Regions from separate parts of the Homo sapiens genome. Here regions 1 and 3 are each linked to region 2. The links come from fine-mapping of genetic effects on gene expression. A gene starts in region 2. Each other region holds a variant in brackets. All regions are shown on one strand. Distances are from middle to middle. Region 1 has its middle 34 kb from the start of MAP3K13. Region 2 holds the start of EHHADH (enoyl-CoA hydratase and 3-hydroxyacyl CoA dehydrogenase). Region 3 overlaps EHHADH (enoyl-CoA hydratase and 3-hydroxyacyl CoA dehydrogenase).

What was found. PIP is the estimated chance that this variant, and not a neighbour inherited with it, causes the effect. A credible set is the group of variants that fine-mapping cannot tell apart.
Region 1: its variant is the best candidate, but not a certain one, in a credible set for the expression of EHHADH in fibroblasts (GTEx, PIP 0.88).
Region 3: its variant is the best candidate, but not a certain one, in a credible set for the expression of EHHADH in whole blood (TOPMed, PIP 0.78).

What each region holds. Positions count from the first base shown.
Region 1 is chr3:185,324,068-185,335,081 of GRCh38, reverse strand. It overlaps a transcript of MAP3K13 not described here. Among named protein-coding and RNA genes, the nearest start is that of MAP3K13, 34 kb to the left of the region's middle. RefSeq lists an enhancer at 2,397-2,456. The variant A/G (reference allele first, on the strand shown) is at 5,895.
Region 2 is chr3:185,248,944-185,259,957 of GRCh38, reverse strand. It overlaps EHHADH (enoyl-CoA hydratase and 3-hydroxyacyl CoA dehydrogenase), which reads left to right and starts at 5,909. Exons shown (of 7, transcript NM_001966.4): 1 at 5,909-6,009. The coding sequence starts at 5,936. It overlaps MIR5588 (microRNA 5588), which reads left to right and starts at 6,686; the gene lies at 6,686-6,748.
Region 3 is chr3:185,202,613-185,213,626 of GRCh38, reverse strand. EHHADH (enoyl-CoA hydratase and 3-hydroxyacyl CoA dehydrogenase) reads left to right here. Exons shown (of 7, transcript NM_001966.4): 6 at 8,870-9,211. Among named protein-coding and RNA genes, the nearest start is that of MIR5588, 45 kb to the left of the region's middle. RefSeq lists an enhancer at 5,228-5,277. The variant T/C (reference allele first, on the strand shown) is at 5,799.

The sequences.
Region 1 (11,014 bases), 75 kb before region 2:
TCAAGAAATCTTTGCATAACCCAAGATTGCTGTTTTTTTTTTTTTAAGGTTTCTGGTTCTATGTTTAGATCTATGATCCATGTCTATTTATCAGTACATCCATGTCTATTGCAGTTTTGTGTAGAGTGAGAGAGGCATGAAATTTTTTCCCCCTATAAGAAAATCCATTTGTTGGCTGGGCGAGGTGGCTCATGCCTGTAATCCCAGCACTTTGGGAGGCCGAGGCAGGCAGATCACTTGAGGTTAGGAATTCGAGACTAGCCTGGCCAACATGGTGAAACACCGTCTCTACTAAAAATACAAAAATTAGCCACGTGTGGTGGCACTCACCTGTAATCCCAGCTACTCGGGAGGCTGAGGCAGGAGAATTGCTTGAACCCAGGAGGCGGATTGCAGTGAGCCGAGATGGCACCACTGGACTCCAGCCTGGGTGACAGAGCGAGACTTCATCTCAAAGAAAAAAAGAAAAAAAAAAAAAGAAAATCCATTGTTTCAGCAACATGTTAAAGAAAACTACTCTTTTTTCATTGAACTGACTCACCACCTGATCAAAAATCAATTGACCTTATATGTGTGAATCTATTTCTGATTTCCCTATTCTGTTCCACCGACAAATCTGCCTGTCCTCAAGGCAATATCACACTGTCTTGATTATTGTTTCAGAGTTAAGTGTTCAAGTCACGTATTATAAGTCATTTACCTTTTTGTTACTTTTCAAGATTGTTTTAGCTATTGTATATCTTTTGTATTTTCACAAAAAATTTAGAAATAGCTTGTCAATTTCGTCAATATTGCCTGCTGAAATTTTGATTGGGAATGCATTAGATCTACAGACTGATTTAGGGAGAAATGGCACCTTAACAATTTATATCCATGATCATGGTATATATATATTGCACTTTCTATTTCTGAGTTGTTAAGTTTTTCTCAGCAATGTTTTACAGTCTTGAGTATAGAGGTGTTGTGCTCTTTTGAAAGATTTATTCCTGTGTGTTAGGTATTTTTTCTTATTTTCTTTCTTTCTTTTTGAGACAGGGTCTCACTCTGTCACCCAGACTGGAGTGCAGTGGCATGACCATAGCTCACTACAACCTCCACCTCCTGGGCTCAAGCGATCCTCTCACCTCACCCTCCTGAGTAGCTGAGACTACAGGTGCGTGCCTCTATGCTGGGCTAATTTTTGTATTTTTTGTAGACACAGCGTTTTGTCATGTTGCTTAGGATGGTCTTGAACTCCTGAGCTCAGGCAATCCATCTGCCTCAGCCTCCCAAAGTGCTAGGTTTATAGGCATGGGCCACCACACCCAGCCTCTTTTTCTTTCTATTTTTTTCATATTTTTAATTTTTTTAAATGGATATGAAGTCTTGCTATGTTGCCCAGGCTGGTCTTTAACTCCTGGCCTCAAGTGATCCTCCGGGCTCAGCCTCTCAAAATGTTGGGATTACAGGCTTGAGCCCACTGTGCCCAGCCAGATATTTTTAATGGTGATATTTTCACCTATTTTAGCTGTTGTTTCTAGTATGATTTTTATGTTGACTCTAACCTGTGGCCTTACTAAGTTCATTAATTAGTTCAAGTTTTTTTTATAGATTGTATAAGGTTTTTTATGCATACAATCATGTCATCTGTTAATGACAGTTTTATTTCTTTTCTGCACTTTAGGTCTTTTAATTTCTTTTTCCTTTTTTGTTTTTGCCTTATCATACTAGCCCTATACTAAGTATCTAATATACATCATCTCATCTTTACAACAATCCAATGTTATTCCAATTTAACAAATAAGAAAATGTGGCTCAGAAAGGTTCAGTAACTTGTCCAATCAAGATTGCACAGCTATTAGTAGATCTAGAATTCAAACCCAGGTAGTCTTATTCCATACCTGTATGTACGACTACTAGACTAGCTTATAAATTTGGAAAACTCAAGGGCACAAGAACAAAAAATGTTATCAAATTAAAAATAGGAAAAAAATTCCATTACTGGCAAAGAATATGAAGAGTTCACAGAAGAAAAAGGCATTTATTTTAAATATGAAAAGATGCTCAACCCCTCTCATAATGAAAGAAATACAAATTAAAACTATGATAAAATGGTATAGCTGCTATGGAAAACGTATGGTGGTTCCTCAAAAAATTAAAAATAGAATTACCATATGATCCAACAATCCCATTGCTGGGTATATAGCCAAAAGAACTGAAAGCAGGACCTCAAAGAGATATCTGCACATCCATGTTCACAGAGGCCTTATTCGCAATAGCCAAGAGGTAGAAGCAACCCAAATATCTATTGATGAATGAATGGATAAACAGGACATGGCATATACATACAATGGGATATTGTTCACCTTACAAATGAAGGAAATCCTGCCATATACTACATCACGGATAAGCCTTGAGGACATTAGGCTAAGTGAAATAAGCCAGCCACAAAAGGATAATTACTGTGTGATTCCACTTACATGAGATAGCTACTAGTCATTCATTGAAACAGAAAGTAGAATGGTAGTTGCTAGGAGTTAGCAGGAGGAGGAAGTGGAGAGTTGTTATTTAATGAGTATAGAATTTCAGTTTCACAAGACAGAAGTGTCCTGGAAATCTGTTGCACAAGAACGTGAATATACTTAACACTACCGAACTGTACACTTAAAAATGGTTACCTATGTTATAGGATTTTTAACCACAATTAAAAATGAAAATTAGTTTTTAAAACTTCAACACAAATTTTATTGTAAATTCTAAAAAACAAACACTATGCTGAAACCATTATTTAACCTATCAAACTGGCAAAAATCCAAAAGTCTGATGATTCTGTTGGCAAGGATATGAGAAACAGTACTCTTATAATGGGGGGGGGGAGTACACATTGGTACAATCCCTAAAGAAGGCAGTTAGGCAATATTTATGATACCTTTTGATCCAGTAATTCTACTTTGGGGAATTTAGTCATATGGATATACTGTATGCATGTATAAAATGATACATGTACAAGGCTATGAACTTCAGCATTGTTTACAATAGGAAGACACTGGAAACAACCAAAATGTCTATCAACAGGTGACTGGTTATATAAATTACAGTACATCCGTACAATGGATTAGTAGGCAGCTATTTAAAAATGAGGACACTCTCTATGTACTTACATGGAAAGAGATTCAACATATATTACAACTGAAAACATTTAGAACATTACGTATAATGTTATGTGTAAAAAGGAGGGAAATAAGAATCTATTTATACTTTTATATTTCCTTACTACATATATCAAGAAACTCTGGAAAGATACATGGAAAAATAATAGCCGTGGTTTGGGGACCCTGAATGGGAGCTGAATGGATGGAGAACTGGCTGGAGTGGGAAGTTGATATGTTTTGGTCTTGGAAATGTGAATATATCATCTATTCAAAAAATTCCTATGGTTGGAAATAAATTTTAATGACACCAGTTGTCATACAACGATTTACCAAGTGTCTACTACATGTCAAGCAGGCACTATCCTAGGCACTGACAATATGGCCCTGAACAAGACAAAGTTCTTACATTCTAGAGGGAAAGACCAAATATATATCCTACATAACACAACACACACACACATACACACACAGGCATACATATATGTACACACATTTTTTAATTTATAAAATAAATACTGCCAGGTGGCTACTTAAAAAAAAAGAAAAGAAAAGAAAAGGCCAGGCGCAGTGGTTCACGCCTGTAATCCCAGCACTTTGGGAGGCCAAGGCAGGCAGATCACCTGAGGTCGGGAGTTCGAGACCAGCCTGACCAACATGGAGAAACCCCATCTCCTTACTAAAAATACAAAATTAGCTGGGCATGGTGGCGCATGTCTGTAATCCCAGCTACTGGGGAGGCTGAGGCAGGAGAATCGCTTGAACCCGGGAGGCAGAGGTTGCAGTGAGCCGAGATCCCACCATTGCACTCCAGCCTGGGCAACAAGAGTGAAACTCCGTCTCAAAAAAAAAAAAAAAAAAGGTAAATTAGGTTAAAAGAAAAAAAGTGTTATGGTGGAAGTGGAGTAGGGTGCCATTTTAGTTAGGGTAGTCTGGGAAGGCCTCTCTGAGGAGGAGCTATTTGAATAGAGACCCGAATGAAGGCTGGGAAGAAACAATGAGGGGGAAGAGCTTTCTAGGCAGCAGCTGCCCTAAGGCAAGAGCAGGTCTGATGTGTTCAAGAGAAAGCAAAACACCTTTGTAGCTAGAGCAACCTGAGTGAGAACAATGGCAGGCAATGATGTAAAACACATGCTTGAAAGCCAGATCCTGAGGGCTGGTTTGTAGGGCACGAGCAGTGGTCTGGATGGTATGGGCACCTACTGGAGGTTAAAAACATTGTTTTCAAAGGGGCTTGTTACCATGCGGCTAGTACACACCTGTATGGCCTTCCAGGTTGTTAAAAGACTGAAACATTTCAAGTCCCATGAGAAAAATAGCTGCTTCCCTAGTAACAATGTTACCTGCCACACTGGCTTCTTTCCCAGGACACCCCCCAGCCCTCCACTCCTTCTCCTCAACCAACAAGTAAATGAGGAACTTGGCCCAGCAGAAGCTATTGACTTGGAGAAGTTAATCAGCTCAAGAGGCTAGAATCACGAGATTCAGAAAGCTAGAGGGTGAGTTAAGGTTTTCAGTTCATTGTAGCCCTAGAGCCTTAGGACAACGCGTCCTGGATTCCATCTCACCGAGATTCAGTTGGGGCCCAGCACCATGATCTGAGCTCCCGCTCAGTACAGCAGAAACAAGAAGCAGGATAGAGAAACAGACTGAGGTCTGAGATGAAGACAGAGGAAGGGGAAACCCAGTGAACGTCTATATAAATAATCTCTCTTCTGAGCACTCCTCCAGTGATTTGAAAGGCTACTGGCTAGGCCGGGCGCGGTGGCTCACGCCTGTAATCCCAGCACTTTGGGAGGCCGAGGCGGGTGGATCACGAGGTCAGGAGATCGAGACCATCCTGGCTAACATGGTGAAACCCCATCTCTACTAAAAAAAAAAAAAAAAAAAAAAAAAAAAAAAAAAAATTAGCCAGGCATGGTGGCGGGCGCCTATAATCCAAGCTACTTGGGAGGCTGAAGCAGGAGAATCACTTGAACACGGGAGGCGGACCTTGCAGTCAGCCAAGATTGTGCCACTGCAGAGCGAGACTCCGTCTCAAAAAAAAAAAAAAAAAAAAAGGCTACTGGCTAATTCGACCTTTTATATAGTTAAAAGTCATATAATTGTCATGTACCAGGTTTTTTAAAAATGCATTGTGGTAAAAGGGAAATAGAAAATACCAACCTTTCCAACACCACATGCGACCTTAACATTCTCATGGCTGCATTAATAAAGTCAATATGTTTGTGTAACAATGTGTAGTTCCTGGATCCTAATCTCAAGACAGAAGAGCTGAAACACGGCAACTCTAATTTCATATATGAAACTCATTTTACGCACCATAGTACTGGGAATTTAGTCTGAAAAATCCATACAGATGTCAAATCTTAAGAAAACAGATTTCTCCGAAGTTGCGTGAAACCTCAGGCTGCTTGCCACTTCTGTTTTACAAAGTTCTTCCTCTTTGAAAATACATTCTGCTGCTCTTAAATCTTGGATCCCAACATCTTGTTACAGGATATTAAGTTCTACTTTATTCTCATTCTTTTAATTTCTTTGAACATCAAAACCTCCAATTTAATGATCTGAGAGACTGCTAAATATTTGCTGACATGAATCTGTAACTATGAATCTAAACCAGAGGAAAAGCAACTGGAAAGAACATGAGGATAAATCTAAGCACTGCTTAGAAACAATCTCTCGGCACTAGGTACATACTCACTTTTATTTTCTAACTGTAAACACTTGCACTCAACATAAGACATTAGAAATCATTTCGTGCAC[A/G]CGGGACCTGTTTTAGCAGCACACTTGCTGATACACCTCACGGCTTTCTTTTCCATTAAAAAAAAATAAAACTACTGCTGAGTGCTGAAACTTTCTTTTCAGTAGTTCTAATCCCTAAGATTTAGAGCCAGGTAGAAACTTGATTTAATCTTTGATGGAAATTATTCTTACAATCCTTTTTATATGAAAATGTCATAATAGTTTTTTTTAAAAAAAACTACTTACACCAAGCTGAAGTCTGAACAGACAGCATGGAACTACCAGCAGCCGCCAGTTTCCTCACAGACTAAACTAAACTTTGCTCCCTTCCTGGCTGTTTCTGGATCAGGTTCACACTGATACACATTTACAGTGGCCTTGGAAGCTACCAACCAACACAGCGAGGTGGGAGGGTTTGTTACTCTAACTCTTGTTTGATAACTGCTTATCAGCAACTTCTCAAAGGTCGACTTAAATGTGTTTAAAGAGACAAATGTAAGGAAGATTATAAGGAAAGCCTGAAAAATCTTAAAATCTCCGATGGCTGGGCTTTGGTTTCCGAGGGGATTTCTTTCCCATATGTTCCTGGAAAAAAGAAAAAAGAAAAGGATAGTCCTCTGAGCTTCAAATATCTTGCTTTCCTCTCATAAAACTTTCCCAGCCACCTGCAGTGGCTCTCGCCTGTAATCCCAGCACTTTGAGAGGCCGAGACGGGCGGATCACCTGAGGTCAAGAGTTCAAGACAAGCCTGGCCAACATGGTGAAACTCTGTCTCTATTAAAAATACAAAAATTAGCTGGGTGTGGTGGTGGGTGCCTGTAATCCCAGCTACTCGGGAGGCTGAGGCTCCTTTTTGAAACTCCATTTCAAAAAACAAAAAACAAAAAGACAACTTTCCCTTCCTCCTCAGAAGCTATACATTGTACAATCATGGCAGAAAAGGGCCAGAAAGTTGTTTCTCCACTATAGTCCTCCCCCATCTCCATTCTCCCTGACTTTTTTACTAGTGAAAGAAAGTTCTTGGTAAACGTAGTATTTTCTGACATTCAAACCACCGGCTGATCTGATGTAAAGTGAGAACATGGATCCCAAATTCTATTCTTTGCAAGATAAAATATGATACTGCTTCATCTCTTGCCACATTCCTAAGCTTCTTTCCCTTCTGAGCTACCATATTTCTTTATTTTATTCCTTCCTTCCTTCCTTCCCTCCCTCCTTCCCCCTTCTTTCCTTCCTTTCTTCCCTCCCTCCCTCCCTCCTTCCTGCTTCCTTCCTTCCTTTCTTTTCTTTCTTTTTTCTGACAGAGTCTCACTCTGTTGTCCCGGCTGGAGTGCAGTGGCACGATCTTGGCTCACTGCAACCTCTGCCTCCCAGGTTCAAAGGATTCTCCTGCCTCAGCCTCCCGAATACCTGAGACTACAGACGCCCGCCACCGTGTCCAGCTAATTTTTGTACTTTTAGTAAAGACGGGGTTTCACCATGTTGACCAGGCTGGTCGCAAACTCCTGACCTCAGGTGATTTGCCCGCCTTGGCCTCCCAAAGTGCTGGTATTACAGGTGTGAGCCACTGCGCCCAGCCTTGTAATTTCTACCATTAGCCTTTGAAGCAGCAACCATTTATTACATACTTACTGCACTAATCACTTTATGAACATTATTTTATTCTCTCCCAGGCAATAAATTTGGAGATCATCTTAATTCTTTTCAGTCTGACTCTCTGAGTCCAATTTGACCCCTTCACTATCCTGGGGATCTTCTGCAACAAGCACCGTGATAGGCAAAATAATGCACCCCTCAAAGATGTCCATGTCCTAATCCTGAGAACCTGTGAATATGTTACCTTCCATGGCAAAAGGGACTTTGCAGATGTGATTAACGTTTAAGGACTTTGAAATGGGGAGATTATCCGGAGGAGTCCAACCTAGTCACATGAATCCTTGAAAAGCAGTGAACTTTTCCCTCCCAGCTGTGGTCAGGGAGATGTGATAGGAGGACTTGACTAGCTCTCGCTGGCTTCGAAGATGGAGGAAGGGGCCTCAGAGGACTGCAGGTGGCCTCTAGAAGCTAGGAATGGCAAGGAAACTGATTTTTCCCCAGAGTGTCCGCCCTGATGACACCCTGGTTTAGCCTAGTGAGACCCATGTTGGTCTTTTGACCTACAGAACTATAAGATAAACTTGTGTTGTTTTTAAACCACAAAGTTTTTGATAATTTGTTATGGGAGCAATAGAAAAATAATACAGGTACTTTAATTTCAAGCTCCTTTAAAATATAATACTCAAGACTGAACAGAATACGCAAATGAAAACTGATGCAGAAAAAAAGTTGTGGAACTATCAAATTCATTAATCTGGGTGCTGTACTTTTATAAATGCAAATCAAGATTATTTCAAATTTTTAAAGCATTATACTCTTAACTTAGTGGCCTCCTAAGTCTTTGGCCCATGAGCTACATTAAACCAAGTGCCTAGCTGTACCCTCATTTTTTTTTTTCTTTCCTGTGTTGGGATCAAACACACACAAGTTTCCCAAGTGTGAATCCTGGTTCTATCCCTTACTTGCTGAGTGATTTTAGGTAATTTGCTTAACCTCTCTGGGTCTCAGCTGACTCATCTGTAAAACGGGCACAATATTTCACCTACTTTTTAGGTAGGATGAAGTGATGTAGCTCATACAAAGTAGTTGGACCTGTGCCTGGAACATAGTAACTGCTGGGTAAATGTCAGCTGCTACTGTAAGGACGGGCTTTCTTGTGGGAGCTGAGGAACAGGCTAAGATTCGTGTCTGGATCAATAGATAAGCTGCTCCAGGGCAGAGGTGCCCTGGAGAACAGGAGCCACTCCAGATTCTGCTAAAATCCTGGGGGCGTGGTGGGGTTTGAGGCTTTTAAGTATATGTGGAAAGGGCTTGAGCTGATCCTAGTTGGATTTCATGGGTCTGAGAATCCCACTTTCCCCTGGAGTTGCAAAGTAAACACTTGCTACCTGCCAGGCACTGTGCTAGCAATGAATCCATCTGACAAGACTCCTATTCTCCCGGGACGGACATTCCAGCAGGAGGGTGGAGAATAGACAAACCAGGAAATTTCATGGGGTGCCAAGTACTGTGATGATAAGAGAACAGGGTGACTGGGGAAAACTCAATATTCAGGACTCACTGAGAAGGAGGGAAGTTTGAGCTGAGAGGAACATGAACTGAGGAGTGAGGGGAAGAAACAGTGTTTCAAGCGAAGGAACCAAGCGTGAAGCAAGTAGAAAGGAACAGTGTTTCAGCCAAAGGAACAGCCAATGTAAAGGTTCAGAGGCAAGAATGACCTTGGCTTGCTCAAGAACCAAGAGGACGAAGGCCAGTGTGGCCAAAGCAGAGATCAAGGACCAAATGTGAGGCCCAAAAAAGTAGTCAGGGACCCTGTAACTGTGGGGAGAGGTTTGGATTTCATACACTGAGATGCCATGGGAAGGTTTTCAGCAGCCAAAGGACAGAATGTGATTGACAAGGGAACACTTGAACCTGACAGGAAGCTGGTCCTGCCCAAAGCCTCTGCTTCAAGTTCCAGAATCCCCTTCACAGCCAGTCTGATCATACCTGGTCCTTCTTACCTTCTCAGCTTTTAACCACCCCTCTACCTCCCAAAACCAAATAGGCAGTTTTGAGGTGACACTGAGCCAAGGTAGCAGTCTATGAGGAGGAGAGAGCAAGGGATGCAAAGCGACACACGTGACGGCTGCAAGTTCCTCTTTGTAGTAGGCTGAATGGTGGCCCCTCAGAAAGAACCCATGTCAAATCCCCGGAATCTATGAATGTGACTGTATTTGGAAAAGGAGGCTTTGCTGATGTGACTAAGGATCTCAAAATGAGATCATCCTGGATTATCTAAGTGGGCTCTAAATCCAATGACCTGTCCTTGTGAGAGAACCCCCTCATTCTTTTCTCAGTTAATTTTAGAAATGAAACACAGGGTCCTACATACAACCTTTTTACATTTCACATTTTGGTTTTAGCCCACTTTTCCAAATTATTAAGATCATTTTGAATCATGCTGGCTGTCCTCTGTCATAGTAAGTAACCTTTTCAGCCTAACTACGTCTACTTAATGACCATGATTTCACCCAAATTATTAGTAAATAAACATTGAACAGTCAAGATTGAGAATAGAGTTCTGAAACATGTTATTAGAGACCTTTAGTTTGATACTGATCCATAAATCAATATTCTTTGGGTGCACATGTTTGATCAGCTACAAAACCACCTATTCTCATACAGCTTATATTTTTGTAGTTCCTCAAATATGTCAGGAGAACAAAATACCTTGTAAGTAAAGACATGTCCACAGCATCCCAATCTTGTCAAACTCTAATGGAAATGAAGATGTAGTTTGTTTGAGCAGTTTTTTTTTTTTTAATTGTGCCGGTTCTTAGTGATTATCATTTTTTTAAAGAGTTTACAAACTATAAGTTAATTCTTTTTTCTAGAAGTCTCCTTGAGGTTAAAAGGAAGTTTACACAAATGGAGGAAATGACATGAATCTCTGTCTCAAAATAGGAGATATAAGTGGAGGAGAAAAGTAGGGGAACATTAGAAAAGAAAGCATGGCGGAAGGGGCAAGCACGGTGTGCCCCTGGGAGAGGGAAGAAACCAGGCTGGTCATAGCAGGGGTGGTTGTTGAAAAGTACTGGGAAATCGGAATTGAAACATAGAATGTAAAGTCTAGAAAAAGGGACTAGGATTTAAAATTAAAATATCAGAAAATGGGAGGAATCAAAAGATTTTAAAGCGAGAAAATAAAATAATAAAGGTGCTTTAATAAACAACCTAATTGAAAAGTGGGCAAAGTACATGAACAGTTCAGAGAAGAAATATAAATGGCTCTTAAATATATAAAAAGGCACTCGGCTGGGCGCGGTGGCTCACGCCTGTAATCCCAGCACTTTGGGAGGCCGAGGCAGGCGGATCACGAGGTCAGGAGATAGAGACCATCCTGGCTAACATGGTAAAACCCCGTCTCTACTAAAAATAAAAAATAAAAAAAAATTAGCCGGGCGTGGTGGCGGGTGCCTGTAGTCCCAGCTACTCTGGAAGCTGAGGCAGGAGAATGGCGTGAACCCAGGAGGCAGAGCTGGCAGTGAGCTGAGATCGCACCA
Region 2 (11,014 bases):
AGACTTAAACGTAAGACCTAACACCATAAAAACCCTAGAAGAAAACTGAGGCAATACCATTAAGGACATAGGCATGGGCAAAGACTTCATGACTAAAACACCAAAAGCAATGGCAACAAAAGCCAAAATAGACAAATGGGATCTAATTAAACTAAAGAGCTTCTGCACAGCAAAAGAAACTATCATCAGAGTGAACAGGCAACCTACAGAATGGGAGAAAATCTTTTCAATCTACCCATCTGACAAAGGGCTAATATCCAGAATCTACAAATAAACAAATTTACAAGAAAAAAACAACCCCATCAAAAAGTGGGCAAAGGATAGGAACAGACACTTCTCAAAAGAAGACATTTATGCAGCCAACAGACATATGAAAAAATGCTCATCATTACTGGTCATCAGAGAAATGCAAATCAAAACCACGATGAGATACCATCTCACACCAGTTAGAATGGTGATCATTAAAAAGTCAGGAAACAACAGATGCTGGAGAGGATATGGAGAAATAGGAATGCTTTTACACTTTTGGTGGGAGTGTAAATTAGGTCAACCATTGTGGAAGACAGTGTGGTGATTCCTCAAGAATCTAGAACTAGATATACCATTTTACCCAGCAATCCTATTACTGTATATACCCAAATGATTATAAATTTTGCTACTATAAAGATACACGCACACGTATGTTTATTGCAGGACTATTCACAATAGCAGAGACTTGGAACCAACCCAAATGTCCATCAATGATAGACTGGATTAAGAAAATGTGGCACATATACACCATGGCATACTATGCAGCCATAAAAAAGGATGAGTTCATGTCCTTTGCAGGGACATGGATGAAGCTGGAAACAATCATTCTCAGCAAACTCTCACAAGGACAGAAAACCAAACACCTCATGTTCGCACTCATAGGTGGGAATTGAACAATGAGAACACTTGGACACAGGGCGGGGAACATCACACCCCAGGGCCTGTCAGGTGGTAGGGGGCTGGGGGAGGGATAGCGTTAGGAGAAATACCTAATGTAAATGATGAGTTGATGGGTGCAGCAAACCAACATGGCACATGTATACCTATGTATCAAACCTGCACGTTGTGCACATGTACCCTAGAACTTAAAGTATAATAATAATAAAAAAGACACATGCACACGTATGTTTATTGCAGCACTATTCACAATAGCAAAGACTTGGAACCAACCCACATGTCCATCAATGATAGACTGGATTAAGAAAATGTGGCACATATACACCATGGAATACTATGCAGCCATAAGAAAGGATGAGTTCATGTCCTTTGCAGGGACATGGATGAAGCTGGAAACCATCATTCTGAGCAAACTATCACAAGTTCTCACTCATAGGTGGGAGTTGATCAACGAGAACACATGGGCACAGGGAGGGGAACGTCACACAACAGGGCCTGTCGGTGGGTGGTGGCCTGGGGGAGGGATAGCATTAGGAGAAATACCTAATGTAAATGACGCGTTGATGGATGCAGCAAACCAACATGGCACATGTATACCTATGTAACAAACCTGCACGTTGTGCACATGTACCCTAGAACTTAAAGTATAATTAAAAAAAAAAAAGAAAAGGTTATTTATGAAACAATGTAGTAAGGAACCAGTAAGTAGGGGAGAGAAATGTGAAAAAAAAAAGTTTAGATAATAAAATATTCCTTAAAACCTGATAGAAAATTGGAGAAATTTGACTAATTAACATTTCATAGTTAGAGCTCTTAGTCTTGCCTAAAGTAAAATAAGAAATATAAGTATATTTTTTAATATACTTAAGCATGAAGCTGGTTAAGTATGGAGCTAAATTTCACATACATGCATGCATTGCTTCACACCGTTTACTGTTTTGCATGGATAGTGCTGGCACTGGAGTACTTATTGGTCATGTGCCTAGAGTGAATTTCTTGATTGTACAGGATGTATGATGATATTGGTGGACTTAAGGATATTGAATGGTGTATCAGGAATAAAATATTCATTATATGGGTGTTTGGGGGCCCTGAGTAACACTGTAGCCTCCAGGGTAGATTGAGTAGGAAAAATTTAGGGTGGGGTTCCTGTTTGTTTTTGCTTCTAATTTTCATTTGTTTGCTGTTTATTCTCCTCCAGGCTTTGCTTGTGGTCGCATAAATAGAAAACCATTTTTTTGTTTGTTGTTTTAGTTTCTAGTGGAAGGCTTTTATTTGGTTCTGTGAATAGTTATTTTATTTTCTATGCATTTCTACCAAGTCATCATTTGTTCCATTTATCTGGAATTCCTAGGCTACCTTTGTTGAGCTCACAGGAATTGGTGGAGCACACTAAGCTTTTTAACCTTAAACTAACTTTTTGGATATTAGGCTTCCTGATACTTTAAGTATATTGAGTATACTTTTGTAAATAGAACTTGAGTCATATTTCTCTCTCTCTGCCTAATTTCTTCAAAATTTGTAAATTGTTTGTGAATATTCTTAATTCATAGCAATGTGTTTGTTTGCATACAGTTGAGCAGGGTCACTAGGGCTGCTCATGGAGAGAGAACTCAAGAAAGCTGACATGCCGGCAAAAGGGTAAGAATTTCTTACCAGTTGGACTTCTGGCCCCTCTTTGTGCAAACTGGTTGAATGAATGGTAAAATATAATGAGAAGGCATGAGAATGTTAATTTTTATAAACATTTAACAAGCTTCCCAAAATCAAATTGCAGCTTCAAAATTGTCTTTTCTGACCTCAAACTTTGAGATGCTACAGCAGGCCCGTGAACCATCCAAAAGAGAGGTAAACAGGATTATTTGATATGTTTAGTTACATGGGAAGCATTGTGAAAATAAAAAATAATGTTTAATCATCTTCAGGTTATATATTAGTGAATGATATTAATATATGTTCCAGAATTGTATGGAATTTCTAAAATTCTAATATGTCTGAGTATATGCTATCAATCATAATTATTGTGTTATTGTAGACCACAGAAATAACCAAATCTCCTTGTCAATAGTGTTTTTAACTATCACTATTTAAAGTCATTTGAACTCCATGGTCTAAGTCAAATCAGCTATGAAAACCCATTAGTTATCAGTGCTATGCACCTAAATTGGAGAAACAACTGGTATTCAAGAGGACATAAGTCCAGTGTTAAGCATGGACTCATGGAAAACCAAGATGGCCACCTTGTTCTTCCTGAGTCCTTAAAGCTTTTGTTATTAAAGTTTCTGCATTCCGTGACTCATCATGGAAAAGATAAAATGATCCAGATTAAATATATACTGGTTTGCTGACTTATAAATTGCTAAAATAGTTTATAACCAATGTTTGGTTTACAATCAAAGCTTCAGGTACATTTGGCTACCTGATGGGCCATTTAAACATTTAAATTGTCATTTTATTTATTTATTTTTTTTTTTTTGAGATGGAGACTCGCCTGTTGCCAGGCTGGAGTGCAGTGGTGCAAGCTCAGCTCACTGCAACCTCCACCTCCCAGGTTCAAGTGATTCTCCTGCCTCAGCCTCCTGAGTAGCTGGGATTACAGGCATGTGCCACCACGCCGGGCTAATTTTTGTATTTTTATTAGAGACAGGGTTTCACCATGTTGATCAGGCTGGTCTCAAACTCCTGACCTTGTGATCTGCCCACAATGGCCTCCCAAAGTGCGGGGATTACAGGTGTGAGCCACTGCACCCAACCATCATCCTTCATTTACATAGGGCATACACCAGGTAACCAATGCAAACCTCTAGAGGGTATTGAAATCCCAGAAAATTCTGTAACTGGTCCCTTGAGCCACTTGCTCAGGCCTGCTCCCACCCTGTGGAGTGTGCTTTCATTTTCAATAAATCTCTGCTTTTGCTACTTCATTCTTTCCTTGCTTTGTTTTGCATTTTCAATTCTTTGGTCAAAACGCCAAGAACCTGGACACCGTCCACCCATAACAGTTTCGCTAGTTGCATGTGATTGTAAGACAAATAAAAATGATGTTGTGGGCTGGGTGCGGTGGCTCACGCCTGTAATCCCAGCACTTTGGGAGGCCGAGGCGGGTGGATCACAGGGTCAGGAGATCAAGACCATCCTGGCTAACACGGTGAAACGCCATCTCTACCAAAAATACAAAGAATTAGCCAGGCGTGGTGGCGGGCGCTTGTAGTCCCAGCTACTCGGGAGGCTGAGGCAGGAGAATGGTGTGAACCCGGGAGGCGGACTTGCAGTGAGCTGAGATCGCGCCACTGCATTCCAGCCTGGTCGACAGAGCCAGACTCCGTCTCAAAAAATAAAAATTAAAAAAAAAAAAAGATGTTGAGGCAGGAGTATAGGGCCTGAAGGCAGGGAACCTAAAGACTTTCTAGAACTAAATCAAATGGAAACACTTCAGCTATGACAGGAAATATTCTCTTCATTTACATAGGGTGTACACTGAGTAAATGACTTCGTAACTTCACTTCGTCCTCTTCATTTACATAGGGCGTACACCCAGTAACCAATGGGAAACCTCTAGAGGGTATTGAAACCCCAGAAAATTCTGTAACAAGGTCCCTTGGGCCTCTTTCTTGGGCCCACTCCCACCGTGTGGAGTGTCTTTTCGTTTTCAATAAATATTCGCTTCTGTTGCTTTGTTTTTCCCTTGCTTTGTGTGTTTCGTCCAATTCTTTGTTCAAAACGCCAAGAACCTGGACAACTTGCAGTCCAGACCCTCCTCTAGTAACAATGTTATATAAGTATTTGGTTGATGTTAGAGTAATCACTGGATGGGTTCTTCCTGCCTGCTGCACAAACAAAATCAATTCAGGAAGACCACAGCATTGCAGTAAGGAAAGAGTTTAATTGATGTGAGGCTGGCCACGCCACATGGGACATGGAGTTATTACTCAAATCAATCTCATCGAAGGCTAGTAGGTTAGGGGTTTTTCAAAGGTGGTTTGGTGGGCAGGGGCTAGGGTATGGAAAATGCTGACTGGTTGGGTTGGAGATGAAATCATAGGGGTTGAAGCTATCCTCTTGTACTGAGTTGCTTGTGGGTGGGGCCACAGGAGCTGTTGACTGGTCCAGGTGGAGCCATCAGTGTCAGGCAAACGTGAAAAAATATCTCAAAAGGCCAAACTTAGGTTCTACAATAGTAATGTTACCTGCAGGAGTAAATGGGGAAGTTGTCTATCTGGTGGCTTCCGGAATAATGGCTGGCAATGGTCTATGTTTACACCTTAGCAGAGAGAATTCACACTCCTCTGTCCTCCTAGCCTGGTGGTCTCTCGGTTAGCTTTACAAAGGCAGTTGAGTTTTGGGGAAGGGCTATTATCATTTAAACTATAAACCAAATGTCTCCCAAAGTTAACTTGGCCTAAGCTCAGGAATAATTAAGGGCAGCTAAAGGCAAGATGGGGTTGGTTAAATCAGATCTCTTTGACTGCCATAATTTTCTCACTGTTAGAATTTTTGCAAAGGCTGTTTCATTAGTACCCTACTCATTTAGGTGAAATGAACAATGTGTATTTTATGTGTTCCAGATGTGTATCAATATCACATAACTGTCAGGGAGGGCCCCAGGTATCTGTCCCTGTTCAGAAAGATCATGAAGATGAATACCGCGATGAGGACAGCTTGCCCGTCTCAGCGAACTCAGAACTTGTCCTCAGTAGCCAGCCCCTATGGGCCAAGGGGTTACAAACTTCGACTTGCCGGCAATTACAGCTGTTTTCCATCATTCTCCTTGCTGTACCTTCTGGTGGGAGCAGCATGGGAGTTAATAAAGGGAAAGCGACAAGCGTCTGTAGAGCGCCGGGTGGGGTCTCGGGAGAGGAGGGCTGGGTGGGAAGAGGCGCGGCGGGAGGCGGCGCCCCGGCTCGCATTGGCCCAGCCGGCGTCCCTCCTCTGGAGGAGGCCGGGCGCGCCCGGAAAAGTGGTTTGCCTGACGGCGAGAGGCAGAGGTGCCCTCGGTGATAGAGGAAACATGGCCGAGTATACGCGGCTGCACAACGCCTTGGCGCTAATCCGCCTCCGAAACCCGCCGGTCAACGCGATCAGGTAACGGGCTCGGTCGCCTCCAGCCCGGGGACCGTGCGGGCCTTAGCCGCCCTCTGGCTCCGGAGGCTTTGACTCTCCCCCGTCGGTTTAAACCGAGAAGGACACTCAAGAGTTGAGCAACTGGTACATGCCAGGAACTTTTTTTTTCTTTTCTTTCTTTCTTTTTCTTTTCTTTTTTTTTTTTTTTAACCTAGATTAGCTTGGTTAATCTTCGCAGGGAACTCTCGTCCCCGTTTTACTGATAAGGAAACTGAGGCTGAGGCTGAGACAGATCAACACTTAGGGAGTTGGCCTCGACCTGTCCTTCATGCGGAGCCCTCCTGCTTACTTGCAACTTTGGCTTTGCAGGCCGACTTTTTATTTTTCTTTTTTTTTTTTAATTATACTTTAAGTTTTAGGGTACATGTGCACAACGTGCAGGTTAGTTACATATGTATACATGTGCCATGTTGGTGTGCTGCACCCATTAACTCGTCATTTAATATTAGGTATATCTCCTAATGCTATCCCTCCCCCCTCCCCCCACCCCACAACAGGTCCCAGTGTGCAGGCCGACTTTCTAATCCAAAGGTCTTAACTTAGTTTGATGTTGGACTTTGATCCAGCCTCACTCCCCTTCTTTGAGTCCAGGCTGTCCTTACAATGTTTGGCTAAAGGCTTTAGGAATAGGGCAATCACTGGCATTAGTGGGACTTTTTTTTTTTTTTTTTTTAATGTTAAAAGTCCCACTAATGCCAGCTCAGTGATTAAAGCAGAATTTTGCCCTGGCCCGGAAACGCAAAATTATTTCTCCTGATTTGTTTAAACCTCAGGACTTTGGTGCTTCCAAGGAAGACTCACATCAGACTAAGCCTATGCAATAGCATTTTCTGAAAAATTGCACCTTATCTTCTTTTTCTCACTGGGGAGTATTTGCCTTGTGTGGTGCACTTTAAACATTAAAAAGTGAGATCAATGTTGCCTTTTTGAAAAGTAATGATTATTTGGTTTGGTCCTTCTACATCTCTTAAAAAAATAATTATATGTCAGCCTTGAAAAAGAATTACCTATCCACAGGGAATAAGATTAGTGGAAATTATAATTTATCAAGAATATATAAAGCATAGAGAGAAAGGTCTTTGGTCAAAATTCTTATAACATGCTGCTGAAGCAAAGAGACTGAAATGAGAAGACCTGCTAATTTTAATAGAATTTAAAAATCCTACTGTCATTGGATTTGATTTATCATTAGTATTAATATTAATTCATTATGAATTATTGCATTTAATAATGTCAAAAAATGCAGGACTAAAATCACATAAGGATGACATGTCTACTAACTTGCCATTCCCAGAATAAAAAGCAAAATATCTGTTATATTGGTTTTGACAAAGAAAAATGTAAGTAATATGATTACATGTCAATTTTGGACTGGTCTATATACTGATTAGAATTGCTAGATATTAGGACCTTAGGGGGAAAAGTTCCATACTCTAATACCCATGACTAGGAATATTTTCTGACAACTGTTTTTTTTTTTTCTTTTTTTTTTAAGCTCATTTGCTTGTTTTGAGACGGAGTCTTGCTCTGTCGCCAGGCTGGAGTGCAGTGGCGTGATCTCAGCTCACTGCAACCTCTGCCTCCCGGGTTCAAGTGATTCCCCTGCCTCAGCCTCCCGAGTAGCTGGGACTACAGGTGCGTGCCACCACGCCCAGCTAATTTTTTGTATTTTAGTAGAGACGGGGTTTCACCATGTTGGCCAGGATGGTCTCAATCTCCTGACCTCGTGATCCACCTGCCTCGGCCTCCCAAAGTGCTGGGATTACAGGCATGAGCCACGTGCCCAGCCTCTGACAATTGCTTTTAATATTTCTGGAATTTAACCTGCTCTCCTTGCCCACCCATGCAACCACCTGTGCCACCCCCATCCTCTTTGCAGGAGAAATGTTAGGGCCTACCTCATAAAGTTGTGAAGTTTAAATCAGCTGGAAATTATGAAGTGGCATTTAATAGATGTTAGTTATTCCTATTAGTCAGAAGACCTGTTCAAGCCCCAAAAACAGGCCCTGCTACTCAGGACCCACTTCAGTTTCATCAAGAAGATATTCTCCACTTGGGAATAAGTACTTCTCTGCCCTTTTTTGTCTGTCTTCTGAACTTTTTTAGGTAGAAATGGACATCCTAGGAGTTCCTCAAGTTTAACAGATTCCTCAATTTTTTTCTTACACTTTTTCTTTCCTCCCTTTCTTCCTTTTCCCCTTCCTATTTCTAATTTTATATGGGAAGTCGTCTCCTCCTAGCTGATTGAGAGATTCTTACTTGAGTGTAATACACACACACACACACACACACACACACACATATAAATTTTTTCCCCAAAACAAATAGTTTAAATCCTTCATTGCTAGTTTAGCCAGCCATGTTTGCTTCCATTCAGATAAACACCAGCCCTCTTTATAAGTATAGGACATGCCTGATTAATAGGCCTGTCTCCCAGAACAATGGCTTTCACACGATTGCTTTACTGTAATCCACAGAGTAAGAAAGCTCACGTTTTTACGTAGCAATTCAAGACACACTTACATACAAACACGTAACCGAAAGCAGTTTCCTAAAACAAAACCTATCCTTACTTGGTATATTGTTTGATATAGTCTATTTTCTCATCTCTTCTTTTTCTTTGAAAAAATCCTGGTCACAAGCCACAAACTTGATTTGATGACTTTTGGTTTAAAAAAAAAAACTGTCTAAAAAAAAAAGGAAAGACCTTCTATAGTCAAAGAAGCTGAAGAGTTTTGGTCAGTAGTCATGAAATGCTGTCTCTACTCCAGACTCTATTTCTTCATGCCTGACAGTATTAACAGGAGAAAATAATTTCATAACTTCTGCGGCCTTTACATTGCTATGACTCTCTCTGTCAGCTTGAATCTAGTAAAGTGCGTATCTGTTATAGCTATTTTCATTTTTTTCCTGTTTTTGATATTTGCAAAATTATGAACATAAAAAAGGAAGATAGGTTGAAATGGGAAAAGCTGGTTTCTTCTCCTCAGTGGCACTGATTGAGCTAATTTTGGCTAGTTTTGTAAGCATTGTTTATTCAGAAGGAAATGTGTGCCTTTTGGACTTTTTGATGTTATATAATGGTTCTGAATTTGCTTTTCATGGTCAGATTTGGCTTCTAATTAACCAGCTGAAGCCAAGAGGTTTTGTCTGATTTCATCTAGGTTAAGAGGTGAAAAGTAATTAGGTGTAAGGGAATCATTATAAATAAGGGCAAGTATCCTTTTTATTTCTTGGGGTTTTAACTAATAGTTGTTGGTCTTAACAATATGGCCTTTACAGAAGTTTGTTGTTGTTTGTTTTGTTTTAAAATTTATTTTTAACCCTGTGTACTAAAGAACAGAGATTTTACTCAGAATACTTGGAATTCCAAGGCAAAACTGATTGGAATCTGGTTCTGTGGTTTTTCCTTTTAAGCAGTTCCTCACCACTTGCCCTAGATTCTCTTATTGCTTGGTACTTATTAATCCCCTCCTTCTTCACAAATTTTCTCTCTTGGTCTTTGTGACTTTGAGCTCACTTGCTGAATCACTCTGCTGAGCTTGTCCCACTTCTTAAATGAAGATATATCCAGAGGATCTGCCCTCAGCTCTCTTTTCCTTTGGTAGACTCATTCAGTCTTGGTTTTAGCTATCTCTTCTGCAGATGACTTCCTCATATATTAAAACTTGGCAAAATCTGCTACATGCCCTATCTTTCCACTATCTTGCCTTTATATCTTATCTTAGTTAAGATTACGCTTGGCTGTCACTGACAGAATAGTGAAGATAATAGTGAATTAGACAATAAAAAGCTAATTTCTCTCACAGCAGTGCCCTGGAATGATACAGCTGCTCCACAATCAACAGGGGCCTCAATTATTTTCTCTGTCTATCTCTTGCTCTACCATCCTCAATACATAGCTTCTACCTCCTGATCCAAGGTGGCTGCTCCTGATCTAACCATCACTGGTGCCAGGAATAGGGAGGAAAGAAAAAGGGAAAAGCATACCCAAATCTTTAAGAACTCTTCCCCAAAGTTGCATATACCAAATATGCTTCCATCCCATTGGCTAGAACTTAGTTCCTTGTGCAGACCTTACTGTAAAGCAGGCTGGAAAATATAGTCTTTATTTTGGGCAACCATATTTTTGTGTTAGTCCATTTTCACACTGCTATAAAGACATATCCGAGACTGGGTAATTTATAAAGGAAGGAGGCTTAATTGATCACAGTTCCACATGGCTGGGGAAGCCTGGGGAAACTTACAATCATGGTGGAAGGCAAAGGAGAAGCAAGTACCTTCTTCACAAGGTGGCAGGAGAGAGGCATGAGTGCAGGGGAAACTGCAACTTATAAACCACTAGATCTCCTGAGAATTCCCTCACAGAACAGCAGCAGGGGGAAACCACTGGCATGATCCAATCAACTCCCGCTAGGTCCCTCCCTGACGTGGGGATCACAGTTTGAAATGAAGTTTTGGTGGGGATAAAGAGCCAAACCAGGCTGGGCGCGGTGGCTCACACCTGTAATCCCAGCACTTTGGGAGGCCGAGGTGGGTGGATCACGAGCTCAAGAGATCGAGAACATCCTGGTTAACACGGTGAAACCCCGTCTCTACTAAAAATACAAAAAATTAGCCGGACGTGGTGGCGGGCGCCTGTAGTCCCAGCTACTCAGGAGGCTGAGTCAGGAGAATGGCGTGAACCCGGGAGGCAGAGCTTGCAGTGAGCCCAGATCGCGCCACTGCACTCCAGCCTGGGTGACAGAGCAAGACTCCATTTCAAAAAAAAAAGAGCCAAACCATATCACATATATTCAAGTAAAAACCAAGTGTTTTAATACTATGAAGACGATGGAGAGGAATGGATATTTGAGGTAACTCACAGCCCCCGCCACAGCTCCTAGACTGTTTCTCATTTAATTTTCTTATATTTTAACAATATGAAAAACTGAAAGTAATTTCACCCTTCTCTGAACTTCAACAT
Region 3 (11,014 bases), 46 kb after region 2:
ATTACAGCCGTGAGCCACCGCACCCAGCCTCTTTGTTTTAAATACAGTGGTTAGTGTGTGGTCATTTAGCAGAACAAAATTGATGGATTAACTTGAAGGAAAGTTTCCACAAAAATTCAATATGTTAATTACATTAAATATATATGCATTTATTAGAAATCTATAGTTATGGAAAGCTAGAGCAATTGTCTTGATCTAGAGCCATGGTCCTCAAACTTCACTGTGCATCAAAATTGCTTTTTGGTGGGCTTGTTAAAGCACGGTTAGCAGGGCCCCACTCATTACTTTCTGATTCATTAAATCTGGGGTGGGGCCCAAGAATTTGTATCTCTAACAAACATGCTTAGGTGATGTTGATGCTGTGTTCTGGGGACCACACTTTGAGAACCATTGATATACAGAGAACAAGGGTAAGAAAGGAGATAATTTTTGCTAGTTTTGATTTTTTTTACACCTGACACGCAAACACTACCTATAGTCTTTTTTTTTTTTTTTTTTTTTTTTTTTGAGACAGAGTCTTGCTTCTTCACCCAGGCTGGAGTACAATGGTGCAATCTTGGCTCGCTGCAACCTCCGCCTCCTGGGTTCAAGCAATTCTCCTGCCTCAGCCTCCCAAGTAACTGGGATTACAGGCACAAGGCAGCACACCCGGCTAATTTTTGTGTTTTTAGTAGAGACGGGGTTTCACCATGTTGACCAGTCTGGTCTCGAACTCCTGACCCCAAGTGATCCACCTGCCTCTGCCTCCCAAAGTGCTGGGATTACAGGCGTGAGCTACCGCACCCAGCTGCTATAGTCTTAAAGATATTTTTGTAAATCAGTTATGAAAGGCATGGTTAAAATGCATACACATATGGTTGCACAACCTTGTGAATATTCTGAAAAACACTGAACTATACACTTTAAAGTGGTGACTTTTGTGGTATGCAAAGTCTGTCTCTGTCTTAAAAAAATACATGTTGAATTTTTGTATTCCCTTTTCCCATTTGTAACCATATTCCAATTATTCAGCCTATTCTCACTCCCACTGCTCAAATGTTTGCTTTAAAACAACAACAACAACGAAAGAAGAAGATGAAGAACATTTATTTAGTTTCTACTTCTTATAGGAAAGGAGGGAGAAAAGGGAATTTCCAATGGTCAAGGTTCCAATCAGCACTTTTGGAACCAATTACGAGTGGGAAGGGAGTGTAGAAGGTTAACATACCTAAAACGCAATTTGGGACTTAGCGGCACATTTCTCTACAAACTTAACACTGTATCCTGGTGAGTTGACTGTGGAAGTTCATTAGCTTTATGCATTTTAATGTTCGTATTCTATGAAGCCTCCCAGACTACTGCAGTGCAATGGATTTAGCAGTGCAATGCAGAATTACTTGGCCAAACCAGATTGCATTGGCTAAACTAGGGAGGGGAGCATCCTATAAAATGCTATATATTTGCACATGCATGTGGCTAGCAGCCTGCCTGTTTCTGAACTAAGAACTCCTGTTCTCATGTGCATGTTTCTGGCATGATGCTGAATGTGTGTGCTGTTATTCAAAGACCAAGAGACTAAAGGCTCTCTCTCTCTCTACCTTCCCCAGCTGGAATGGGCACAGGGAATTATCCAGCTGGGAGTGTCAACTCTGGAACCTAATGCTCCGTTTTCCTTTCTGTAATGAACCCTGGTCCTGTTCCTGTGGCTGTGCTGGGCTGTGTTAGCCACTTTTAACAATTCTAATTCTGCCTAAAGACCTTGGTCTATTTGTTCTTTTGGAGTTGTGGCTTTTAAAAAACCTTAGTGGTTTTATTTGTCTTTCTCTTCATTTTATCTTCTTCACTTTGTAATTTATTTTTACCCGCTGTGAACATTTATATGAACATGTTTCAAAAGAGCAGAGTGACCTGCCTTACATAGGAGGCCTACGCACATGTCTAAATTGAGCTTCCTTTTTACCTGCTAGACAAGTTCTGTGGGTCACCTTCTTGAAGCCTGTTAATGTGCAGTTATTCTGTCTGTCCTTTGCAAAGCTTTTATGATGGACACAGCTTTCTGTTTATCAGGGTTAGAGAGAGAGAGAGAGACAGATTCCTTGATGTCTGTGTTCACGATTTCCGTGAACCGCATGTTGAGTCTCTCTTTAGCCTAGGCAGAGAAAATCTTTTCCTGCCATTACAGCAGAAGAAGAAGGGAAAATAATCACCTCCTTTTGTTCCTTCAGAAACGTGACTCACTTATCTTTTTTATCAAAAATGTCATAGAATACCTCATAGAACTAAGAAAAAATGTGAATGGGTCAAGGAAAGAATTCAATTAATAGTATATTTGAATCACTGATTACTTCCTTTCCTCCCCATTTCCCTGGGCAGCCAATGCTGATGCTGACATACTGACACTTGCCTCTCTTATTGTATAGGTACTGCTGAGTGACTTGAAAACTACCAAGTATACAAGAAATACACTTTGAAAACAACTGTACTTATACACCCAAAGGGGAAATTCTGAATATCTTATAACTGAAGTTGTAAGATAACAGCATCCTTAGTTATAGCTGTAGCAAGAAAGAGATAGGAAATTGAGCAGGGAAAAACCATCTATGATTGTGCCCGGATCCAAAATTTTCCAGTGGGTATGCTTAGTTTGGCCCTAGGACTGGTCTAGACAAGTGCCTTGGATAGCTCCCAAAATGCCCATATGCAGTCTGCGAGGTTTTCAGTGTCCCCGGGATAATAGGATTATGCTGATCAGAACTAATTACTGCACACCATTAAGCAGGCTTTCTTTTCATTTCAGTTTTGTTCTCTCCTCTCTTTTTTTCCCATCTTTTCTTTTCAATCTCTGGCCTAAAATGAAATTGCCAGGAACTGCAGCTGTCCTTGATTCAGTGGCGGACAACACTCTCTGCTCTTGGAGCTCCCAGAGGCTATACCTTAAAATCAGCTTCTGAACTTTTCAAGAATAGTCTTACTAGGCCCCACCTTTAAATATTCCCTTTTTTTTTTTTTTTTTGAGACAGAGTCTCACTCTGTCGCCCAGGCTGGAGTGCAGTGGCACAATCTCGGCTCACTGCAACCTCTGCCGCCCAGATTCAAAGCGATTCTCCTTCCTCAGCCTCCCGAGTAGTAGCTGAGACTACAGGCACCCACCACGCCTGGCTAATTTTTGTATTTTTAGTAGAGACGGGGTTTCACTATCTTGGCTGGGCTGGTCCTGAACTGCTGACCTCATGATCCACCTGCCTCGGCCTCCCAAAGTGCTGGGATTACACTGTGCCCGGCAAAGATTCTTAACTGAATCTATGGTGAGGCCTGGGCATGGCTACTCTTAAAAAATTCAGCAGTTAATTTTGAGGTATGATGTGGGCATCTGAACTTCGTAAACTCTTCAAATAAATCTGATGTGTGCTATGATGTTGAGAAGCACCCCCAGGAATGCTGGGAACAGAGGTAGTATCACAAGACAGAGATCCAACTCTAAGATATCCCAGCGCTGTCTATGCCCTGTTACATGGCATAGATTGCACCGGCAGCCCAGCCTGCCTTCCTCCTCCGCTTGTGCCTCCATGCTCTTGTTCTCTCCTTCCTCTCCCCATTGTCCATTCTTGTCTTCCTTTTAGGTCACCGGCACATTAAATCATCTGTAGACCCTGGGGGAGTCCCCATTCTTCTCTGCTGAGTTTGCTTTCCCTTAAATTGAGGATTGGGCTAACTCTTTGGGTAATTGAGCAAGTAATTGGTGGGCCTATTGGATACGGTTCATGTTTTTTCAAAGTAGTAGGGTGAGAGGGACCACATGCCTATAACCACTGTCTTCTCTCCATTCCTGAATCCTATTCTTTAACATCATATGGGAAATCATTAATTCAGAAACTCATTCTTTCCAACACTACTTACTAATCAAGCATTAAGAAAATATTCTTGTCTCTTTGATTTAAAAAGGAGGCTGAGATTATACAATATATCTATATTACCATGTGCACATGATTACATCCAAACCTTACTCACGTTCCCTTGGACACGCCTAACACACCAATGCCAGAGGGGCTCAATGCCAGATGCGCTTATGTTCATATGTCTTTTTATGGTGAAACTGCTCTGGTATAAGCCCTGGTAGGCTTTCTGTCTAAATAACTAAGATGTACATTTTTGATAAAATGGTTTTATTTTTTAAGAGATGCCAGTACATTATAGAAAACAACTTCTGGTATAGCTGAAGTTTTGGTAACTGTAAGTTGTTATGAATTTATTATTTTATGAAAACTTTGGAATCATTCTGTAAAGTTATTTTTTAAAATAGTACCATAAGGATTCTTATTAAAATTTCATATATAATACATATGGAAAATATATTTTTATGCTATTAAATATTTATATCCAGAAGCATGGTGCTTTTCTGTTTTTATTAAGGTCTTATTTTATGTTCTTCAATAAAATGGTATAGTTATCTTCTGAAAGGTCTTGTACCTTTCTTGATAAATTCATTTCTAGATACACTTTAACAGTTTTAATGAGGCGTGATTTGCCTTATAGATTGTGCAGCCATCCCCATAAATCAATTTTAAGACTTGTCCACTCCCACAAAAAGTTTCTTCATGCCCATTAACACTAACTCCTACTCACATCCCCAGCCCTAGGCAACCACTGATCTTTCTGTCTCTATAGATTTGCATTTTTTGGACCTTGGATCTAAATGGCATCATACAATATGTAATGTTTTGCATCTGGCTTCTTTTAGTTAGCATAATGTTTCTGAGGCTCATCTGTATCTGTATTGTAGCATGTATCAACAGTTTGATCCTTTTTATTGCTGAATAATATTCTATTGCATGGCTCTATCAAATTTCTTTAGTCATTCAACAGCTGATGGATGTTTGGATTGTTTCCAGATTTTGCTATTATAAATAATGCTGCCATGAATATTTGTAGACAAGTTTTCTTTATGGCATATGCTTTCATTTCTCTTGTGTAGATTCCTGGGAGTGAAATTGCTGGGTTGAACAATCAGTTTATGTTTATCTTTTTAAGAAACAACTAAACTGTTTTCCAAAGCAATGTGCTGTTTTACACTCTCAGAAGCAACGTATGAGGCTTCTGGTTTCTCTACATCATCACCAACATTCAGTAGTGATGGCTTTTTATTATAGTCATTCTAGTAAGTCTAACTGCATAACAAATGACCCCAAAACTTAGTGGCTTAAAATCAAACATTTATTCCACAATTTCTGTGGGTCCAGAATCCAAGTGTCCTAGGTCCTCTGGCTTTCAGATTTCAAACAAAGCTACAATCAAGGTGTTGTCTGTGGCTGTAGTCATCTCAGGTTGATTAGGGGTCAGGGGGAGAATCTGCTTTCAAACTCACTCAAGCGGTTGTTGGTAGGATTCAGTTCCGTATGGGCTGTTGTACTGAGGGCCTCAGTTCCTCACTGACTGTGGGCTGAAAGCCTCCCTCAGTTCTTTGCCACGTGGGCTTCACCATAGGGTGGCTCACAACAGGGCAGCTGGCTTCCATCAGAGTGACCAATTTGAGAGGGCAAGAAAGTATGAGCAAGACTGAAGCCAGAGTCTTTTTGTAACCTAATCTAGAAATGACAGCCCATTACTTAGAGTCTGTCTACCACATTTGTTGCGGTTTTAATTTGCATTTCCTTAATGACTAATGATGTCGAGCATCTTTTTGTGTGCATATTAGCCATTCACATATGCTCCTTGATGAAATAACTGCTCAAGTTTTTGCCCGTTTAAGAAATTACATTGTTTACCTAATTATTGAGTCATAAGAGTTTGTTACATATTCTGGAAACAAGTTCTTTATTTGA[T/C]ATTTGATGTGCCAATTATATTTTCTATTGCTGTGCTAAAAAATTACCACAAGCTTAGCAGTTTAAATCATCCGAAATTATTTTCTTACAGTTGTGTAGACTAGAAGTATTGTAGAGGTCTCCCTGGGCTAAAATCCAGGTGTCAGCTGGTGCACTCTTTTCTGGAGGCTCTAGGGGAGAAACTGTTTCCTGCTTATTTGGGTTGTTGGCAGAACTCAGTACTTTGCATTGTGGGATCAGAGTCCCCATGTTCTTGCTTGCAAACTTGCGACCTTGTAAACCTTAAAGGTCAATCCCAGCTTCTAGAGAACACTGCATTCTTTAGTTCTTGGTCTCCTTTCCTCATATTCAAAGCTACATCAGTGCCAACAGGTCGAGTCCTTTGCATGTTGCATTTCTCTAACCCTTCTTCCTTGTTGAATCCCCCTCACCACAGTCAGGAAAGATTCTCTGCTTTTAAGGACTCATATGATTAGATTGCACTCAATCAGATAACACAGGGTAATATCCCCATCTCAATGTCTAATTTTTTTTTTTTTTTGAAATGGGGTCTCACTCTGTCACCCAGGCTGCAGTGCAGTGGCACGACCTTGGCTCACTCACTGCAACCTCTCAGGCTCAAACGATTCTCCCACTTCAGCCTCCAGAGTAGCTGGGACCACAGGGGTGCGCCACCATGCCCGGCTAATTTTTTGTATTTTTGGTAGAGACAGAGTTTCACCACGTTGCCCAGGTTGGTCTCAACCTCCTGAGCTCAAAGCAATCTGCCCACCTCGGCCTCCCAGAGTACTGGAATTACAGGCGTGGGCTACTGTGCCCAGCCAAGGTCTTTAATCTTACTCTCACCTATACATCTCTTTACCATGTGAGGTTATACATTCACAGATTCTAGGAATTAAGACATGAACATTTGGTGGGGGGGGTGTTATTCTGACTACCACACAAGTATTTTCTTCTAGTTTATGGCTTGTCATTTCATTTTTTTTTTTCTGTTTTTTTTGGAGACAGAGTCTCGCTCTGTCACCCTGGCTGGAGTGCAATGGCATGATCTCGGCTCACTGCAACCTCCACCTCTCAGGTTCTAGCAATTTTCCTGCCTCAGCTTCCCGAGTAGCTGGGATTACAGGTGCACACCACCATGTCCAGCTAATTTTTTGTATTTTAGTAGAGATGGGGTTTCACCATGTTGCCCAGGCTGGTCTCGAACTCCTGAGCTCAGACAATCCACCCGCCTCGGCCTCCCAAAGTGCTAGGATTACAGGCGTGAGCCACTGCACCTGGCTGTCATTTCATTTTCTTATTGATATCCTTTGAAGAACAAAAGTCTTTAATTTTTATGAAGTCTGATTTCTTGTTTCTTTTGTATGTCATGCTTTTGGTGTTGTATCTAAGAATACTTTGCCTAACCCCAAGGTCCTGAAAATTTTTTTATATTTTCTTCTAGGAATTTTTATAGTATTAGTTCTTCAATTTAGATTTGTGATCTGTTTTCAGTTGATTTTTATATATGGTGCTAGGTAAGGACCTAAATTTTTTTTTTTTTTTATTGTTTTTGGCATGTGGATATCCAATTATCCCACTACGATTTGTTGAAAGATTCTCCTTTTGAGGATTTTTTTCTGAACGATTATTATCTAAAGTGTGTTGTTGCTTTAGGGTCACAGTATGCTTGTGTGCATCTGTTACCATGTCACTGTGGTCCTTCGCTGAGTGCCCTTAGGGGACTAGAATCTTTCCAATAAACCACGTTTGAGATCGTATGAGTCAGCGTGCAGTGTAGCCCACACTTGAGAGTGTGGATTTATGTGCACAGTCACTTTGCTCTGGGTGGAAGTAGGTTATAGTTGACTTACTTTCTCGGTGCTTGTTCCTACAGCCCCTCTTTTCATGTGTTGCTCAATCTCCCTATCCCTTCTTGGTGCTTGCACATCTCAGACCCTTTAGCCAGACCCTTTAGCCAAACCCTTGCCAATAACAGTATTTTTGTTCTCAGTTCTGTTCCCTCTGGTTGCGGAGACTTTGAATAAAAATGCACACACCTATTCAGTGGGATTTAGCTGGAAAAGGTGACCTTCCAACCTCACGTCAACTTCTGGCTCCTCAAACAGTAGGTTGGCAGTAAGGCAGGAAAGTTGTTTTCCCATTTCTCACTGAGCAGATTGTGAATATTTCCATATGGATTTTCTGTTGTTAATGTTGCTCCGATTCTTTGTTTTAAAATAAAAATTCTGAATGTGAAAAAAAGAGACTCTCCTTTCTTCCATTGAATTGTTTGGACACCTATGTTGAAAATCATTGGCTATAATTGTAAGAGTTTATTTGTGAACTCTCGATTCTCTTCCATTGATATATATACCTATCCTTGCATCAATACCACGCTGTCTCCTTTTCTAGGTATTTTAAAGTTTTTGTTACTATTAGGAACGGAGTTAAGGTTATTTTGAATCTAAAATATTCACTCAATAATAGACACTAGAGTCTCTACTACAGGGGAAGGGAGGGAGGATGGCAAAGGTTGAAAAACCAACTTCTGGGTACTATGCTCACTACTGGGGTGGCAGGATTATTCATATCCCAAGCCTCAGCATCGTGTGATATACCCATGTAACAAACCTGCACATGTATGCCCTCAATCTAAAATAAAAGCTGAAATAATTTTTAAAAATTAATAAATAAAATATTAACTCAGAACCGTTTTCCTTAGACTCATTAATATTTAATATATTAATATTAATTACAGATTAAATATTAATCTATTGATTAATTTAATTAATTAATCATTAATCTATTATAAAATTGTCTTGGTCTTGGATTAAAAAGAAAATACAACTTTTATGCCTAAACTAGGTAACCTAAAATTGCTTTGAGTCTACTAAATTCTATCTTGTAGGACTGTGTTGCAAAGATATCAGAGATGTTAGTGTACATATGTTTAGTGTACATTAAATGTCTTAATGAATAGCTTTTAGTTTGTGCTTTGAATTTGAACAGGTTATTGTTATTACTATATATTCACATTCCCTTTGTACAAGTAACATTTCCAAAGCTCTGATCCTTCTTATTCCTTTCAGATCAACCTCTAGAATCCCGTAGACTCTGCAACAAGCCAATTCAGAGCTTGCCCAACATGGACAGCATTTTTAGTGAGGCCCTCTTGAAGATGCGGAGGCAGCACCCTGGGTGTCTTGCACAGGAGGCTTGTGTCCGTGCAGTCCAGGCTGCTGTGCAGTATCCCTATGAAGTGGGCATCAAGAAGGAGGAGGAGCTGTTTCTATATCTTTTGCAATCAGGGCAGGCTAGAGCCCTGCAATATGCTTTCTTCGCTGAAAGGAAAGCAAATAAGTGGTCAACTCCCTCCGGAGCATCGTGGAAAACAGCATCAGCGCGGCCTGTCTCCTCAGTTGGTGTTGTTGGTAAGACCATGGGGTAATGAATGGAATCCTCCAAATCTGCTCATGTAATGTGCTACCATTTGCTTAGGGCTACCGGATGCTAGGTTTCACGTAAGACACATTACTTGTGTTAGCTAAGCTAATTCTCACACCACCCCATGAGCTCTCTTCTTTAACATGAGAGGCCTAGAGACGCCAGCCTTCTCAATGGTGAGCTAAACACGAGTAGGGTGAAAGTCTGACCCTAGGTCTGACTCCAGACTGGGAATGTTTTATTCTTTTTTTTTTTTTTTTTTTTTTTTTTGAGACAGAGTCTTGTTCTGTCACCCAGGCAGGAGTGGAGTGGCTCAATCTCGGTTCACTGCAACCTCCACCTCCCAGGTTCAAGTGATTCTCTTTCCTCAGCCTCCTGAGTAGCTGTGACTACTGCCACCATGCCCAGATAATTTTTGTATTTTTAGTAGAGACAGGGCTTCGCCATGTTGGTCAGGCTGGTCTCGAACTCCTGGCCTCAAGTGATCCACCTGCCTTAGCGTCCCAAATTTCTGAGATTACAGGTGTGAGCCACCATTCCTGGCCTAGCATTTTTTATTCTATGCTACCTCTTCCCTGTATGAATCTCTCATTCCTGGATTTCCTGATGATGATGATTTGTACCACATTTCAAGGTGTGGCCTGTCACTCTCATAGCTGGGTATTTGCAATCAAGTCTCTGTCTTTCCGTCCCCCGATCCATTCACTTCACCTGTTCAAAACCACTATCCTCAAATCCATCTTAACCCTGAAACCATGGCTTCCTTACTTTTTTTCCCTCTGGAATTTTCCCAAACAAAATATCTTCCTTCCTCAGATGCTAGCTCCCTGATTGGCTTCTCTGGGCCACTTTCCTAAGCTTCACTTGCTCTTAGTCTCGGCTCAAGAACGGTCTTTGGTGGATTTTAAATCCCTTGAGATGGTAAGTGAAGCATTCTTTGCACCAGCTTAGGTACAATCTTCTGGGGAGAGGGTCCATAGTTTACTAAAAGCATCAACTTTCTTTCTTTTCTTTTTTTCTTATATTTAAGTTTTTTTAATCATAATTAAAGACATGCAGGAAAGTTATAATAGTACAAAAAATTCTCATATACTTTTTATCCAGATCCTCCAAATGTTAACGTTTTACTATATTTGTTTTATTTCCCTCTCTCTTTTCTGAACCCTAAGAAAAAGTTACAGACTTATGTGTATTTCCTAAAATTAATATTCTCATACATGACCACAGTATAATTTATTTTAAAAAACAGGGCAATTAATATAAAGAACTATTATTTAGTCTATAGCCCTTATTCTGATTTTTCTTTCTTTTTTCTTTTTTTTTAACCATCTTTACGATTTGTAAGTATACAGTTCAGTAGTAATAAATATATTTATATCCTTTTTTTTCCCTTCATCTCCCATCCCCCCCTCCCCTTCCTGGCCTTTGGCAACCACCAATCTACCCTGTATCATTATGAGATCTACATTTTAAGCTCCCACATATGAGTGAGAACATATGATATTTGCCTTTTTGTGTAAAAGCATCAACTTTCTTAACCCTTGCCCAGCTGTCTAGCACAGTGGTCTCCAACCTTTTGGCACCAGGGACCAGTTTCACGGAATACAATTTTTCACGGATTGGGGGATGATGGTTTTGGGATGAAACTGTTCTACCTCAGATCATCAGGCATTAAATTCTCAGAAGGAGCATGCAACCTAGATCCCTCACATGCGCAGTTCACAATAGGGTTCGCGCTCCTGTGAGAGTCTAATACCACCACTGATCCGACAGGAGGCGGAGGTCAAGGC